Regions from separate parts of the Homo sapiens genome. Here region 1 is linked to region 2. Evidence: fine-mapped expression QTL. Tissue or cell type: whole blood. Region 2 holds a variant in brackets; the other region holds the start of a gene. All regions are shown on one strand. Distances are between the middles of the regions.

Region 1 (8,088 bases), 70 kb after region 2:
GCAGAGTGAGACTCTGTCTCAAAAAAAATAAAATATTTCCCGGGGAGCCCATGGTAAAAATACAGTCTCTCTTAAAGTAAGTTTAATCTGGTGTTAATCTTTAAGGCTTCAACTGAAAAATATAAATGGTGTGTTATGATCAAAAATAGAGTGTGTATGTTTCTACTGAAACTTCAGAAACATAAACTTAGTATGACATCTGCACTTCAGATAAAGTTATTTTAAATCACGTTTGAGAATATATATTAATACAGTAATTCTGTTCATTTTAAATGCTAGGCAATATAGCGTTGGATTTGAGGTTGTAACAGTTTCTACTCTAGGAGATCCTGGTCCCCATGGCTTTCTGAGGAAATCTAGTGGTGACTATAGGTAATGTTGGCATTTTTATTGTATCTATTTTATACTTTACTTTTTGTGGCATCATCTTCTATAAACCTTATTCTCATTTTCTCTAAATATAGGTGTGGGTTTTGCTACCTGGAATTAGAAAATATACCTTCTGGGATCTTCAATATCATTCCTAGTACCTTTTTGCCTAAACAAGAAGGACCTTTTTTCTTGGACTTTAATAGTATTATCCCCATCAAGATCACACAACTTCAGTGATGGAGAAATCTCAAGTTACTGGCTTTTATACTTACCAAACATCAGTTCTTCAAATAAGGACGCAAATCTTCAGGACAGTAAGCAGAACAATCAGAATGGAATTAAATCTCTAAAAACGTGTTACAGTGGAATCTGGTGCTTGTCAGGGTGTTTGGTAAGAACTGTATATAGTCAGAATTACCTAAATCACCTAGAGGTACCGTTTACATGGTTTTGTGTATATAGAGTTGGCTTGCATTTTAGGGGCCATTTTGTATAAAAAGTGCATATGATTAAAATTAGACTCAGTCATCACTGTGAGATGCCTTTGCTAAGAGGATAAAGGAACTGAGACCAGATGAGAAAAAGAAAGGATATAGATTCCTTGAGTGGAATAGTGGGCTAGATTAATATACCGAAATATTTCCATTGTTTCCCTTTTTTGCAGAGCATGTGGAAGTTAAACCTGCTTGATTCTACTATACATCTTGGGCAACTAGTTACCAAATGAATTGTGCCACCATAACTGATTTTAATTTTGCATTATTTATGATTTTAAAATATTTGTTGCCCAGGTGTTATGAAAGAATAAAGCTTTTAAGTATAGACTACCTTAGCATGAAGATGCTCATGCCTAAGAATGAAAATTGTTGAGGTTATCTCCCATTCAATCATGTAGCAAGAACTTAAAGAAATTCACTACTGCAGTTTTTATTTTTAAAAAACAGTAATTGAGATATTGAAGACATTACAATTTAGTTTGTGTGGTCTTTTTTTAAATTGCTGTATCGTTCAGTCTCTTGTGGCAATAGCACTTTGAAGAAAATAGAGAATTTAATATATGGTGATTGGGATATGTAGCATTCAAAAAAAGTGAATTGCCAAGATACTGGTGTCATGTAAATTCCCACTTTACATAAAAACCCATCAGGACAGAATGATGCTCAATATTTTAAAATTCTAAAAATAGGGTGGGATTTTTCATTGTCTCTACTTTATAATTATCAAAACTTATTTTGTATTGCTACTACCTTAAATTGAAATAAAATGTTTATACTTACGGATATTGCATAGTTTAAGTTAGATTTATTGAAAGATTTCATCTGTCGTGTTTCATGTAAATGAGAACAGATTATTTGCATGAAAATATATACTTCAACAAAAATCTGTTCTTTAACAGAGTAGTGGTAGATTATTACACTAATGAGATTTCACTTTGGTAAATACTTCATGCTTTCAGTTTTAGCCTATTAATTTTAGGTGGACAAATTTAACAAGTTTTCTGTTACTTTTTAAAAAGAAAAAATCCAGAACATAAGAACTATATTATGAACACATGATTTGAACCTGTTGTGGTAAAGATCTTGTACAGGATGCAAACTAAAAACCTAATCCCTGCCATCAAATTTATTAGAAGAGACCTATATATGAACAACTTAAAGGCACTGATTTCTATAATAGAGCTCTAAAAACATGCCACCAGTGTATGAATAAGGGAAAGATTAATTTTGGCTGGACCAATATAAAAAATTGTATTTGAAGAATTGATACTTTAACTTGGACCTTGAAGGTAAAGCTTCAAAAGACAGGTTACTGACCATTGAGTGTTTACTATGTACCCAATGTGTATATTTTTCTTTTTAATCTTCCCAATAGCTGAATAAAGTATAGATACTATTATTTGTACTTCTTACAATTGAGGAAATAAGCCTAAGAGATTAAAAGATTTTGCCCAGGGTTCACAAGCCTTCTTCCCTGAGCCCTGATTGAGCTGCTGTGTGTGTCTAATGGCACCCACAGTCACGGCCGTCTAGTCGAGGGAGGGACAAGATCTAGACCCATTGTAGAGGGAGGAAAAACAATCCAGGCCTTTTGGAGGTTCTAAATAACAGACAGACCAGTTGAATTGTTAGAGAGGATGACTCAAGTTTCTAATTCAGCACATGGACAGATGCTCATAGCTTCAGTGAAAGGTAAGTTTTGACACATTAAATTGCCCAGAAAATCCAGATCTGGAATCAACGTGGTATAGTAAGTGAGATCACCCAAAAAGTCAAGAGTCACGTGAACTAAAGATGGTTAAGAACTGATTTGGGGGAAGTTTTTTAGAAAGTATTTCTAATTTAGAAAAAAATACATAGACTAACAGGAGATACAAGAAAACGAGGGTTGGGGGAGGATTAAGAAGCCCAGTGAACAGAATTCCCAGAAGAGTATAATTAAATGTCAGATGTGGTGGAGATAAAGAGGCCACAGTGACAGCAGTAGGGGCAGACTACGTAAAACTAGAAATTTGACTAGGTGATAGTGTGAGAAGGGAGCCCTGGTCAAAAGGTGGTCTGCATCCTTTTCTGGTGTAGGAGACAAGCAAGTGGTAGGCTGATGGGAAAGGGGGATTGAGGCAGGAAACAAGAGAAATTCTTAATGCCCATAAGGAATACTCTAGTGCTACTGACTGACTGCCTAGGCTTTGTCTTTTGTAAAGACAAGGGAAAGAAAGCCCCAGTGTTAGAAAACTCCTTCCCACTTTCATTCTCTGCGAGAAGTACCTAGAAATTTCTAGTTATTAGACTGTATAACTTGACTCTGCTGTAAAAACTTTATCCTAGCTTGGGCTATTTTCCAGATGGTGTTTCTTCTAGGAGGAAAAAGAATTGCCTCAATTGCAGGGAAGTTTTTGCTAATGGTAAGTCAAGCAAGTCTCAGTGTCTTTACTACAGGTAAAAGGGTGTAAGGAGATTTTATGAGAACTGAATGAACCCTGAAGGTCACTAGTCAAATTCAGGTATGCTGTTAAGTGTTCTTGCTTGAGACCCAAATTACAAGACTGGCCAATTTTTGTATTTTTGGTAAAGACTGGGTTTCACTATGTTGCCCAGGCTGGTCTCGAACTCCTGGGCTCAAGTGATCCACCAGCCTTGGCCTCCCAAAGTGCTGGGATTACAGGCATGAGCCCTTGGGCCCAGCCGGCTGTTTAATGTTCTTAAATAGCACAAGGGACTTCTATGAACTTTCCTAGATGAAATATTTATTAACTACTAGGTAAAACACTTGTTTGATACTGCAAAGGGTTATTTCTGAAACTTAAACCTCATGATTGGCCAACCAAGAACTTTTTCTCCACAGCATGCTTTAATAATGAAATGCGGATTAAGAGTCCAATATTATAAAACATTTCCACAAAAGAAAGAATCCATCTGATTCTCAACTCTGAATGCACATTTGAATTCCCTCGGGGAGCTTTTAAAAGTCTAATGCCCCAGTGTACCCCCCCCAGTTAATTAATTAAATAATTCTCTGGGGATGAGAACTGACTGACAGCAACACTTAAGCTTCGAGACTGCAGTGTGCAGCCGAGGCCCACTCCTCCAGCGTCACCACCTCGTCTTTATCTGCCACTGTGTCTCCTCATTGCCCACAGCTTTAGCAACAGCAAAAGTAGAATTCAAACCTTGGTAAACAAGGCTTAAATTATTACTGTTCATGACCTTAATTAATTGAAAATGATTACTGGTGACCACAGCACTCCATGCTCTTCCTTATGGAAAAAGGGTTGCCTAGAAGATTTAGGCAATACTGGGAGTTCTTATTTGAAGTCACAGAAAGGAGAAACTTTTCTCAAGCCGTTTTTATTACACTTAGTGTATTAAGACAAGTACAAAATAACCTTGTAATTAAGATACTGTATCAGTCAAAAAAGAAGTCACTATTGTATGAAGAGATTTACAAATGACTAAAATATACAGGCTGTGACAGAATTAACAGTTTGAAAGAGGGTTGCTTTTTTCTTTTAGAAATGCTAAATTTTCTTAACAAGACAAAAATACAGTGCTCTAAATATGCATTACCATGAAAACGTTAAAGAAAAGCAGTCTTAACACTTAACTACTATTAACAGCCTTTGCCAACACATGCCTGCCTACTCCCTTTCCTAACTTTAAAGAACTGTTTCCTCTAAGGAATACTAGTGCAGCATAACCCTTAAATAATTTCATTTATTTTTAAAGTTACAACCTACAGAGAAATTAACATCTTGTCAATCTAATAACAGTGGCAACCATTCTTCACATGCACTTCTCTTAGAATAAATCCCCTTGGCTGGCAGGATAAGGCTTATGCTGTAGAACCTTCTCCCCCACAGCCACAAATCCCCTTCTATAAGTCCCTCCTACCCTCATCCCCCCGCATCCCCACTGGCATTCACCTTTCCCACCCCAAAAAGTGCAGCTCATGGTAGCCTTCTAGAAAATGGTTTTAATGGGTATCCCAGCATACACGCTTTTTTAAAAGCCCCCTCTGAACACCAGAGGTGGTGAAAATGAATTGTGTTCTTGGATTTTTTTTTTTTTAAGCCTCCACTGGGTCAAAAATATGTGCTCTTAATACTTGAGTTTTTGCTTTGTGTGTGGGTTTTCTTTCTTTTTCATTTAGATATCGTGGGATAAAGTGGAGAGGACATCTCCATTTTCCCATACAAACTGAGGGTGAGAAGAGAAAGAGAAGCAAGCTGTTGCCCCCACTTTGGCCTGGCTTCCCAGCCATCTTCCCAGCTCTGGTTCTTTCATAGGAACTAGTTATTGCTTCCACAATGCCGTTATACGGAATGTTCCACAAAGGCTGTGAACCTAGTCACAGTCTACCCACAACAAGAACTCTGCTCTGAAAAACCAGCCCAAGAGCTCTTACCCAGAAGAACAATCTTTAGCCCTCAAGGTCACTGAAACTTCATTAGAGCAGTTTAGAGTAGACGTGTAAGATTTGGCATATATTAAATGATTATTGGCACAATGTTCTCCAGTTCCATGTATAAATGTTGATATGCACATCGGCCAGGGCCCAGGATGAATCAGCCAATCTGCACCATTTTTATGTCAGCAATAATTCCATCTCTTCCCTTTGAGCACTGTAGGGAGAGCTGCTTCATCCGGTTCTCCAAGGCCTGGCCCTCAGGGGAGGTGCTGCTTTGGCTCTTACTGCTGCCACCACTGCCACTGCTACTGCTGAGGCCCCGGTTGTTGTTGGCTTTGTCACTTGTTTTATTCTCTGCCCCTTCTGCCCTGTCTCCTATAGAAATACAAGGATTATCAAAAGTGAGTATTGACAATTCTGCCCTGTCTCCTATAGAAATACAAAGATTATCAAAAGTGAGTATTGACAATTCTAAGTCACTTGAGCTCAAACCAGTCAGCTAACTCAGCCCTGTAGAAGTCCCACTGTTACCTACCGTGCCTATCAGAGAGGTTCTCAGTACATAATCATTTACTGCTTTTATTCCTTGTGATGTTTTATATATTCCTTAGCTATAGAGATGAAATTTGCCATATTCACTTTATTGCTGAGAAACAAACCTCTCTACTATGTGCTTGCCAAGGAGACTGTTCTGATGTGAGACATAGGACCTAAGCTCTACTTTATAGAAGCTGAGTGGAGCCAGGAGCCCCCCCAGAACAGCACTTGGAAACAACCTCAGTGATCAATACTGACAGCACAACCACAGAGACCTGGTAATGCAGCATGGGGGCCCTGAGACCTGGCAGAGGTATGGAATGGCACAACAGTCAGGCTACAGAGGCAGTGTGGCATCTGGGACGGGGTGAGAAGGCTGCTACTCACCTCGTTCTACTTCACATTCAGGGGAGGAGGCCCCGCTGCATTCACTTCGAGGGCCCAACACTGGGAACATCATCCCAAACTCTGACAGGGACACAGGGCTGGGCAGATCCAGGCTGCCAGGCCTCACAACCGCAGGGAACTGGTCAGGCATCTCAGACGGGCTTGTTGGTCCTGAACTAAAGCTGGACACGGACTGGGTTTCCGAGTCATCTTCAGACACAAAGTTGCTACAGCTGTCATCTTCAAAGGCCTCCGAGGCCACTAAGTTGAGAGAGAACACCAGTCACATGGGTTCTGTCACCTCCTCAAACACCACAAGTGCTTGCTGCTGGCAGGCAGCTAGACACAGCATGGGGGACTAAAGAGTCTCTACCTCTGTGAGTGCCTAATGAAGGAATGTGACTTCCCAAGCCTGAATGACCAGCCTCTAAAGCAGCTGGAAGGGAAGCAGCTGGCAGCAGGATCCCATGGATATTAAGCGCCCTTCCAATAACCTTATAACCCTGCCAAGAAATCAGTGTCACCAGACACCACCTAAAAATGGAAGATTAATTCAGCCACAAATTAGGACCTTTACTCCACCTCAGTCCCCCAAATACATCCTCATGTGCACAGGAAGAGGTTCTAGTCCTCTGTAACATATCCCAAACAAAGCCAGCTGGACTCAGGCTTCTTTCTTAGGGCAATAGAAGCAAGAGCTGCTAGAAGAAACAGGCCAGCATGGAACATCTGTTGGGACCTTTGTTATCTCCAGGTAACTTCTGATCTCATAAAGAACACACTCAAAGGCTACCCACATCACCATTTGCTGCAAAAGAACAGAAATCCTTTACAATGCTCTGTAGCCACATTATTTGGTAGACCAAAGTAACAAGGCCCAGACACATGTTATTCCCATGGTTTCAAAGCCTCTTTGGCCTTTAGCGGTTTTCCCTCAGCCTGCCCACAATCCCACTCCTTATTAGAACTTTCCTACTCCATTTTTCCCCCCCTTTCTCTTTAAAAACAGCCTTGTAGCATTCCATAAAGGTTTCTTATAAATGATAAATACTGTAATGTTGGGGACAGAAAATGGGCTCAGACCTGAATTGAATCCCTAACTCCACTACTTGCTGTGTGACCTTGGTCAAGTTACTTTACCTCTGTAAGCTTCATGATCCTCTCCATGCAGGGTTTGAGATGATGTATATATTAAAGTACCTCATACATAGTAGTTGTTCAAATGATAGTTTCCTTTTCCTTTACCTTGAACCTAGTACTTAAATATTTGTTGAAGGAATTAACTCCTGAGGAAGGAGCTTGGGAAAGAGCCGACAGGGATTATTGCACAGGTAAGGAAAAGAAAGGAAGTATGCAAAGACAGCGTTGGGTGGGTTTTCTTGATGAGCATGACAGAAACCAAGTCAAACTTCTATCAGTTTTCCAGGGGGAGGCCCTGGGAAAAGAGGTCTCTATGGTCAGATGTCAGTAAGAGCCACCATTTGCTGAGTGCTTCTTGGGTGTCAGGGGTTGATTCATGTAAGCTGAACCACCACCCTACACAACGGATAGTATACAGTAGATAGCGTCATACTCCCCATTTTACAGGTGAAGAAACTGAAATACAAAGTTAGGCCCTTGCCCACATCATGCCTTAGTAATGATGTAAAGGTAGCTTTGAATCAAATCTGATTACAGCTCTTCTTTCCTGCAGGACTTCTCAGCCTTGAATGTTCAAATGTATACTTTGACTCTCAAAGAGGAGTGAAGGTGTAACATTTTCCCAATTTATTTGACCACAGAATCCTGACTTTGAGGAACACTTAGTACCTTCTTAATGAACACAGTGTTCCATAAAACATGGGAACCCACCAGAAATAGCCCTCAGGCCTGCCCAACTCTGAGACC
Region 2 (8,105 bases):
GTGAAGCGATCCGTCTTGTGATGATAATTACTCCTCAGAACAGCTCTGCCGAAGAGAAAAGGCAGAATGCAGAACAGACTCCTGTTTACAAAAGCGTTTGAGAACCTAGTAATACATTTCAGAGTATGGAAGTTTTTAATATCTATTTTTTTGTCATTTGGGGTTAAGTACTGAAAAAACAAGTGCCCACCATTCACTATAAGCTTCCAGATTCTGACTAAATTCTCCTTCAATGAATCGATTGCCTCTTATTAATTCTGAAGCTTCTGTAATATTTCCTTTTAAGATGGTCACTACCACTAGATGGTTTTCAGCTTAAAGAAACCCAGGTATTACCAATCCTCTGTGACTTGAAGCCAAAACCAGCTTCAAGGAGGATGATCCCCCAAAATATCTTCCAAGTCTCCATTCTAGATGTGGACCTAGAGAAAAGAAGAAACCTTGTAATTAAAAAATGTGCCTTCATGCACTTAAAATGTGTCCAACACATTGACTATAAATTATGCCTCATGAAGTTGATTTTTTTAAAGCATAAGGATGTCTTTCCCCACATCAACATAGGCTTTATCAAAATAAAGAGGGAAATGTTCCCACATTGTTTCAATTGTGCAAGGAAAATGGTCTTGCTGATCCAACTCGGGAAGAATTTTGTAAACACCCAGAGTGTACACCTCAGACTTCACTATTTAAAGTTGTCCAGATGTGGCTATAAAAGGAGAAAGCATACAGGACATGGCATAGAACTTCCATTTCACACACTGCATTCATTTGGTGGGTCATAAACATTTCTGAATGATTTTGTTTGTATATTTATGCAAGAGTGGAATAACCTGATAAACAGTTGTGGTATGCTAAAATATTCAAGTATCTCAGGAGCACATCTGCCTGGTCAAATAAGCCTAGTCTGAAAATACCTCATACATTCTCAAAAAAAAAAAAAAGCAGAACATCAGACCTCCCTCCCCAAAGCTTAGATCCATTTCCAAAGGGGTCCATGGAAATTGTCTACTCTCAATTCCATTTCTATTTTTTTTACTCTAAGAAAGTCCATTTGTTTAAAAATAAGAACATAATAATCCCATTGAATGAGAGGTTCCAAGTGGAACAGGGAATACCTCATCTTTATATTCTTGGCCAGCCAATCTCACAGCTGCCTTCAGCAGAATGTATGTGGTTAAAAAGCAAGGACTCTTGGAGATAGACTGCCTGGGCTTGAGTCTTCGATCCACTATCTAATAGTGGATCTTAGGCAAATTGCTTCACTTTTCTCTGCCTTGGTTTCCCCATTTGTAAAATAGGGGCAATAATAGCACCTACCTTATAGTGTTATCAGGATTGAGTTCATTATTATAAAACACTTTACCCATTCCTGGCACACAGAAGGCACTCTTTAGGTGTTTGTTAAATAAAATAAACCTTCTTGGAGCCCCAATATGTAATTCAAAAGAATTCAAAAGAATTCTTCCATGTCTTTGCCATTGTGAATAGTTAAAGCACATTCTTAAACAAACCAAAGAGTTTAAGCAAGAATCTCTAGCATGTCTAAATCACTTCCTAGTCTTGGGTTCTTTAAATAGAATATTGTGTGGAAGTGATCATCACAACACCCAGGAATAGCAGACACCCAACAGCTGCGTTTCTCTTTCCAGAAAGTGTTAAGTGAAAACCACCCCCCACTCCCTAAAAACACATCTTGACTGTTCATGCTCAACTTACTCCTTAAGAGGGATTCAAAAATTTGAGATAACCATATTTATTTTATTTACTTTATTATTTACACCAACAGAAAATACTGGGAGAAGTCTTGACTTTAAAGGAAGCCCATAGGCCTTGATTCTGGTTTGAGCTTGGCTATTTGCTCTGCAGACTTGAGCAAGCTGTTTCAACTTTCAGGTTTTATGTGATGAGTCTAGAGGTCTTAGCTCTGATTTGAGACAACTACTGTATTGACCACTGTATTACAAACATGCCCTAGGGAATTGGTCCAGTGTTTTTCCAGGAAATAGATGTGCTATAATTAGATTTCTCTGTTCCTCAGTTTCTACATAACTTCCCACTAGTGCCTCCTCCCGGAGGTGTATAAGTAACTAAAGGAAAGGTACTTTAAGACTTTAGATATCCTATCCTTCAATAAACTTTTACCTAAGGGTAAAAAAAAAAATGCATGAATCTTAAAGAATAGATTGCCCTAGTGAATTAATAACTGTATGAGGGTAAAGAGCTTGAGAGTCTGAAGGTGTGAAAAATGATCCAAAATAAATTAATGGATCATCAACATGATCCTCATCATCATCATTGCAATAAAATATTACACTTCCAATTTTGAAACACTTGGGTTAATAAAGTTATTGGAAAAAACAAAACCTTTAAGTAAAGGTTTTACTGTATAAAACCTAAATATAGATATTATGTCTACATTTTCATTTTCCATTATGTCCCAATTATTACTATTCATGCGATTAGTCATAAAAAATGAGCATTTTTAGCTAATTGTAAATAAAGCACTAGAGCTGTTTATGAAACTCTAGTGGGAAAGTCAAAATGATAAACATTTATAAACGGTTGTAAACATTTTACAGCTGGGCAAGTCTGTGTTATATCAATGAAGAGTTAAGTATCTATGTATTAGAGATTTAATATCTACGTGATATGTACTATTTCATTAAGATGTTTATATCTTAAGCTGCTGAAGAGATTTTGCATCTGAACACATGGGACTCCTCATGGAGGCAAGAAATAAAGCCATTAAATGAAATGGAATTAGATAGGGATAGCATAGAATACTGATTCTTTCTGCAAATAACTTTAATAGTTTTGCAATAGAAAAGATTTCTCTCAAAAATATATTGCTCAAATAGTTAACCAACTAAAACCGTCTATTTTTTAGATTCATTTATTCAGTTTAAAAATTACTTTGCAACTACCATAGTAACAATTGACTCAGGAAGAATCATCAGAGATTGCTAAAACCACTGGGTAAAAGTTTGTTACACAACAGAATATGAATATATTTTCAAAGTATCTTCTGAAAAATTACTTAGAAATTACAAAGGGCAAAAAAGTACCATTACGATGGAGAAGCCTGATGGACATGACTTAACCAAGTGATCAATTACATCAATAATAACAGGATAAACCAACATCATCACCTCCTGATATTATGCATGAGAAAACTTAACATCACTTATATAGTATTTCTCCTTAAAATCCATGACCTAAATCTGATAACGAGAAAACAATCACATAAACCAAAACTTGAGGACAGTCTAAAAAATAACTGGCCTGTGCGTCTCAAAAATATTCATATCATGAAAGACAAAGCAAAGGAATTGATTCAGATTATAGGAGTCCAAAGAGACATAACATATAAAGGCAATTCATGATCCTGGTTTGGGGGGAAAAATGCTATAAAAGCCATTGAATGAGACAGTAGACAAAATGTTAATATGGACAGAATATTATATAATAATACTGTATCAAGGTCATGGTGAAACCCGGTTTCTACAAAAAAATACAAAAAATATTAGCTAGCCATGATGGTGCACGCCTGTAGTCCCAGCTACTCGGGAGGCTGAGGTGAGAGAATCGCTTGAGCCCAGGAGGTTGAGGCTGCAGTAATCGTGCCACTGCACTCCAGCCTGAGCAACAGAGTGAGACCCTGTCTCAAAAAAAGAAAATACGGTATCAATGTTAAATTTAATAACTTTGATTATTGTGTTGTAGTCATGTAAGAGAATGGCCTTCTTATTTAAAAATACACACTGATGCATTGTGGAGCAAAGGACCTTACTATCAGCAACTTACTCTCAAATGCTTGGCAAAATTATAATGATTCATAGAGAGAGGAATAAAGCATTGCAATACATTTGCAACTTTTTACTGAGTGTTTATTGTTTGCCAGACTAAACTTCAGGCCCTAGAAATAACAGACTAAAAGAAACCATTCTTTTTCTCAGAGAACTAGTGGAGAGAGAGATGGATAAATTGTAATATTGTGGGATAAGCAAAATAAAATAGAAAGCTATACAAAGTGCTGAGGAACACAGTGTGTGAGCACCTGTCTTCACCTGGGTGAAGAGTTTACAGAGCAGATGATTCCAGAGTGAAGACTTGAAGGATGAGTAGAAATTTGCAAGTGAGAATGTGAAGAAAGGGAGTTCCAGGAAGAAGAACAGCATGTACATGCAAGGACACTGGAGAGGTACTAGACACTCCAAACACAGCCTGCCCACAGATTCAGGAGCTCAGGTTTAGGAGTGCTGGGGATGTGGTTAGGCCTTCATTAGAGCTCATGCACCTGTGCTGTCCAAGCTCTTAAGGCTTG[A/T]TAAGTCTCATAGAGATCTTTTCTGAAATGACTGAACTTAAAAGGTGGGATAGAAGAGGGGACCCGAGCAGAATTCCTCAGTCTTCAAAAACAAACCTCCTTAACTTCATTTAATTAAAGTAGCAATGCTTTATATACCAGTCTCCTTCAAGGTTTTTGTTCTTCCTCTGTGGAATGCTCAACTATAAAATACGAAGATTCCATCTCTAATGTCCTATGCCAGTGACTCTTAAACTTCAGCATTGCATCAGAGTTACCCAGAGGACCTGTTAAAGCCCAGTTTGTTGGCCCCTACCTCCAGAGTTTCTGATTTTGTAAGTGTAGTGTGAACCCTTAGAATCTGCCTGCTGAGCTGGTCCGAGGAACCATATTTCAAAAACCATTCTTTAGGCCGGGCATAGTGGCTCATGACTATAATCCTAGCACTTTGGGAGACCAAGGCAGGAGGAGTGCCTGAGCCCAGGAGCTGGAAACCAGCCTGGGAAAAATAAAGAGACCCTGTCTCTACAAAAATAAAAATAAAAATTAGCCTGGTGTGGTGGTGTGTGCCTGTTGTCCCAGCTTCTCAGGAGGCAAAGGTGGGAGAATTGACTGAGTCCAGAAGTCGAGGCTGCAACAAGCCATGATCATGCCACTGCACTCCAGCCTGGGTGACAGAGAGGGAAGGGAAGGGGAAGGGGAAGGGGAAGGGAGAAAGAGAGAAAGAGAGAGAGAAAGAAAGGAAAGGAAAAGAAAAGAAAAGAAAAGAAAAGAAAAGGAAAAGAAAAGAAACTAGTCTCCCATGCATTTAGCATGCAGTGGTTCCTGCTCAAGCGAGTGTCTGCCCCACTTGCTTTCAATAGCCTCTTTAATTCCCTATGGAGAAAATCAAGTGTCTATTTTCAAGTAAGTGAGAAAAGAGAAGAGATTATTGATTTTAAAATGTTTTTTAAATTACTGAGGTAAGCAGAAGCTTCAAAATATTTGGATGAAATACTCAATGCAAATATGCAAAATTAATTTAACACATTTTTTCCATTTTCTTTCTATTTATTCTCTGAAATCCAGAGCTGTGCTCTCTCTTTTCTTTCTGTTCACTTTAACAGGGTTATTACAATAACTGGATTTTTGGCTTTCTAATGAGATAGTCTTACAGTGTTCCACATCTGGGCAGGAAGCTCCAGAAGGCAAACAATTGAGAAACGTGAATAGATTCTTCTGTACACTTCACGTTAAACTCTACATAACATGTTTGACAGTAAAAAAAATAAAAATAAAAAACTAAAGTTTAGCCTTAATTTATTGCATAAACATTAACATTTGTTTTCTGTGCTCATTCACAAATCTTACAATGGCTCAGATAAATCTATAACTTTGTTGTAAAATATTTAAGGGAGGCTATGTCAAACATTTCAATGACAATTAATGTGTCAGTAGTCTCAGAAAAAAATAACAAGATGCAGAATCTTGGAGCTTTCCTCCAGAGAAGGGTAAGGATTAAAATGCCAGAGTTCAGCGGAGCTCTGTGCAAAGCAATAAATGGCTGTTGATGGTTATGATACTCCCATCAGCTGTGGAAATTAGTAGATTGGTACATAATTAATTTGTGAGGTACTTAAAATTTTGGAACACTACACTAAGAAAATAAGAGAAAAGACCAAATAAATAAAATGAGAAATGAAAGTGGTGACATTACAAGAGATGCTTCAGAAATGAAAAAAATGAAAAAGAACTATTATGAATAATTATATGGCAACAAATTGGATAACCTAGAGGAAATGGATAAATGCCTAAAAAAATGCAACTTACGGAGGGAGGAGCCAAGATGGCCGAATAGGAACAGCCCCGGTCTACAGCTCCCAGCGTGAGCGACGCAGAAGATGGGTGATTTCTGCATTTCCATCTGAGGTACCGGGTTTATCTCACTAGGAGTGTCAGACAGTGGGCGCAGGTCAGTGGGTGTGCGCACCATGCGTGAGCCCAAGCAGGGCGAGGCATTGCCTCACTTGGGAAGCGCAAGGGGTCAGGGAGTTCCTTTTCTGAGTCAAAGAAAGGGGTGACGGACGGCACCTGGAAAATCGGGTCACTCCCACCCGAATACTGCGCTTTTCCGACGGGCTTAAAAAACGGCGCACCACGAGATTATATCCCGCACCTGGCTCGGAGGGTCCTACGCCCACGGAGTCTCGCTGATTGCTAGCACAGCAGTCTGAGATCAAACTGCAAGGCGGCAGCGAGGCTGGGGGAGGGGCGCCCGCCATTGCCCAGGCTTGCTTAGGTAAACAAAGCAGCCGGAAAGCTCGAACTGGGTGGAGCCCACCACAGCTCAAGGAGGCCTGCCTGCCTCTGTAGGCTCCACCTCTGGGGGCAGGGCACAGACAAACAAAAAGACAGCAGTAACCTCTGCAGACTTAAATGTCCCTGTCTGACAGCTTTGAAGAGAGCAGTGGTTCTCCTAGCACGCAGCTGGAGATCTGAGAACGGGCAGACTGCCTCCTCAAGTGGGTCCCTGACCCCTGACCCCCGAGCAGCCTAACTGGGAGGCACTCCCCAGCAGGGGCAGACTGACACCTCACACGGTCGGGTACTCCAACAGACCTGCAGCTGAGGGTCCTGTCTGTTAGAAGGAAAACTAACAAACAGAAAGGACATCCACACCAAAAACCCATCTGTACATCACCATCATCAAAGACCAAAAGTAGATAAAACCACAAAGATGGGGAAAAAACAGAACAGAATAACTGGAAACTCTAAAAAGCAGAGCGCCTCTCCTCCTCCAAAGGAATGCAGTTCCTCACCAGCAACGGAACAAAGCTGGATGGAGAATGACTTTGACGAGCTGAGAGAAGAAGGCTTCAGACGATCAAATTACTCTGAGCTACGGGAGAACATTCAAACCAAAGGCAAAGAAGTTGAAAACTTTGAAAAAAATTTAGAAGAATGTATAACTAGAATAACCAATACAGAGAAGTGCTTAAAGGAGCTGATGGAGCTGAAAACCAAGGCTCGAGAACTACGTGAAGAATGCAGAAGCCTCAGGAGCCGATGCGATCAACTGGAAGAAAGGGTATCAGCGATGGAAGATGAAATGAATGAAATGAAGTGAGAAGGGAAGTCTAGAGAAAAAAGAATAAAAAGAAATGAGCAAAGCCTCCAAGAAATATGGGACTATGTGAAAAGACCAAATCTACGTCTGATTGGTGTACCTGAAAGTGATGGGGAGAATGGAACCAAGTTGGAAAACACTTTGCAGGATATCATCCAGGAGAACTTCCCCAATCTAGCAAGGCAGGCCAACCTTCAGATTCAGGAAATACAGAGAACGCCACAAAGATACTCCTCGAGAAGAGCAACTCCAAGACACATAATTGTCAGATTCACCAAAGTTGAAATGAAGGAAAAAATGTTAAGGGCAGCCAGAGAGAAAGGTCGGGTTACCCTCAAAGGGAAGCCCATCAGACTAACAGCGGATCTCTCAGCAGAAACCCTACAAGCCAGAAGAGAGTGGGGGCCAATATTCAACATTCTTAAAGAAAAGAATTTTCAACCCAGAATTTCATATCCAGCCAAACTAAGCTTCATAAGTGAAGGAGAAATAAAATCCTTTACAGACAAGCAAATGCTGAGAGATTTTGTCACCACCAGGCCTGCCTTACAAGAGCTCCTGAAGGAAGCACTAAACATGGAAAGGAACAACCGGTACCAGCCACTGCAAAATCATGCCAAAATGTAAAGACCATCGAGACTAGGAAGAAACTGCATCAACTAACAAGCAAAATAACCAGCTAACATCATAATGACA

Evidence for each region. PIP is the estimated chance that this variant, and not a neighbour inherited with it, causes the effect.
Region 1: it holds the start of SH3BP5-AS1, and the variant in region 2 is fine-mapped to the expression of SH3BP5-AS1 in whole blood (TOPMed, PIP above 0.99).

The regions. Positions count from the first base shown.
Region 1 is chr3:15,250,652-15,258,739 of GRCh38, forward strand. SH3BP5-AS1 (SH3BP5 antisense RNA 1) reads left to right here and starts at 3,533. Exons shown (of 3, transcript NR_046084.1): 1 at 3,533-6,955; 2 at 7,983-8,088. CAPN7 (calpain 7) reads left to right here. Exons shown (of 21, transcript NM_014296.3): 20 at 280-372; 21 at 465-2,265. The coding sequence ends at 609. It overlaps SH3BP5 (SH3 domain binding protein 5), which reads right to left. Exons shown (of 9, transcript NM_004844.5): 8 at 6,202-6,462; 9 at 3,702-5,652. The coding sequence ends at 5,435.
Region 2 is chr3:15,180,553-15,188,657 of GRCh38, forward strand. It overlaps the pseudogene COL6A4P1. Among named protein-coding and RNA genes, the nearest start is that of CAPN7, 22 kb to the right of the region's middle. The variant A/T (reference allele first, on the strand shown) is at 4,325.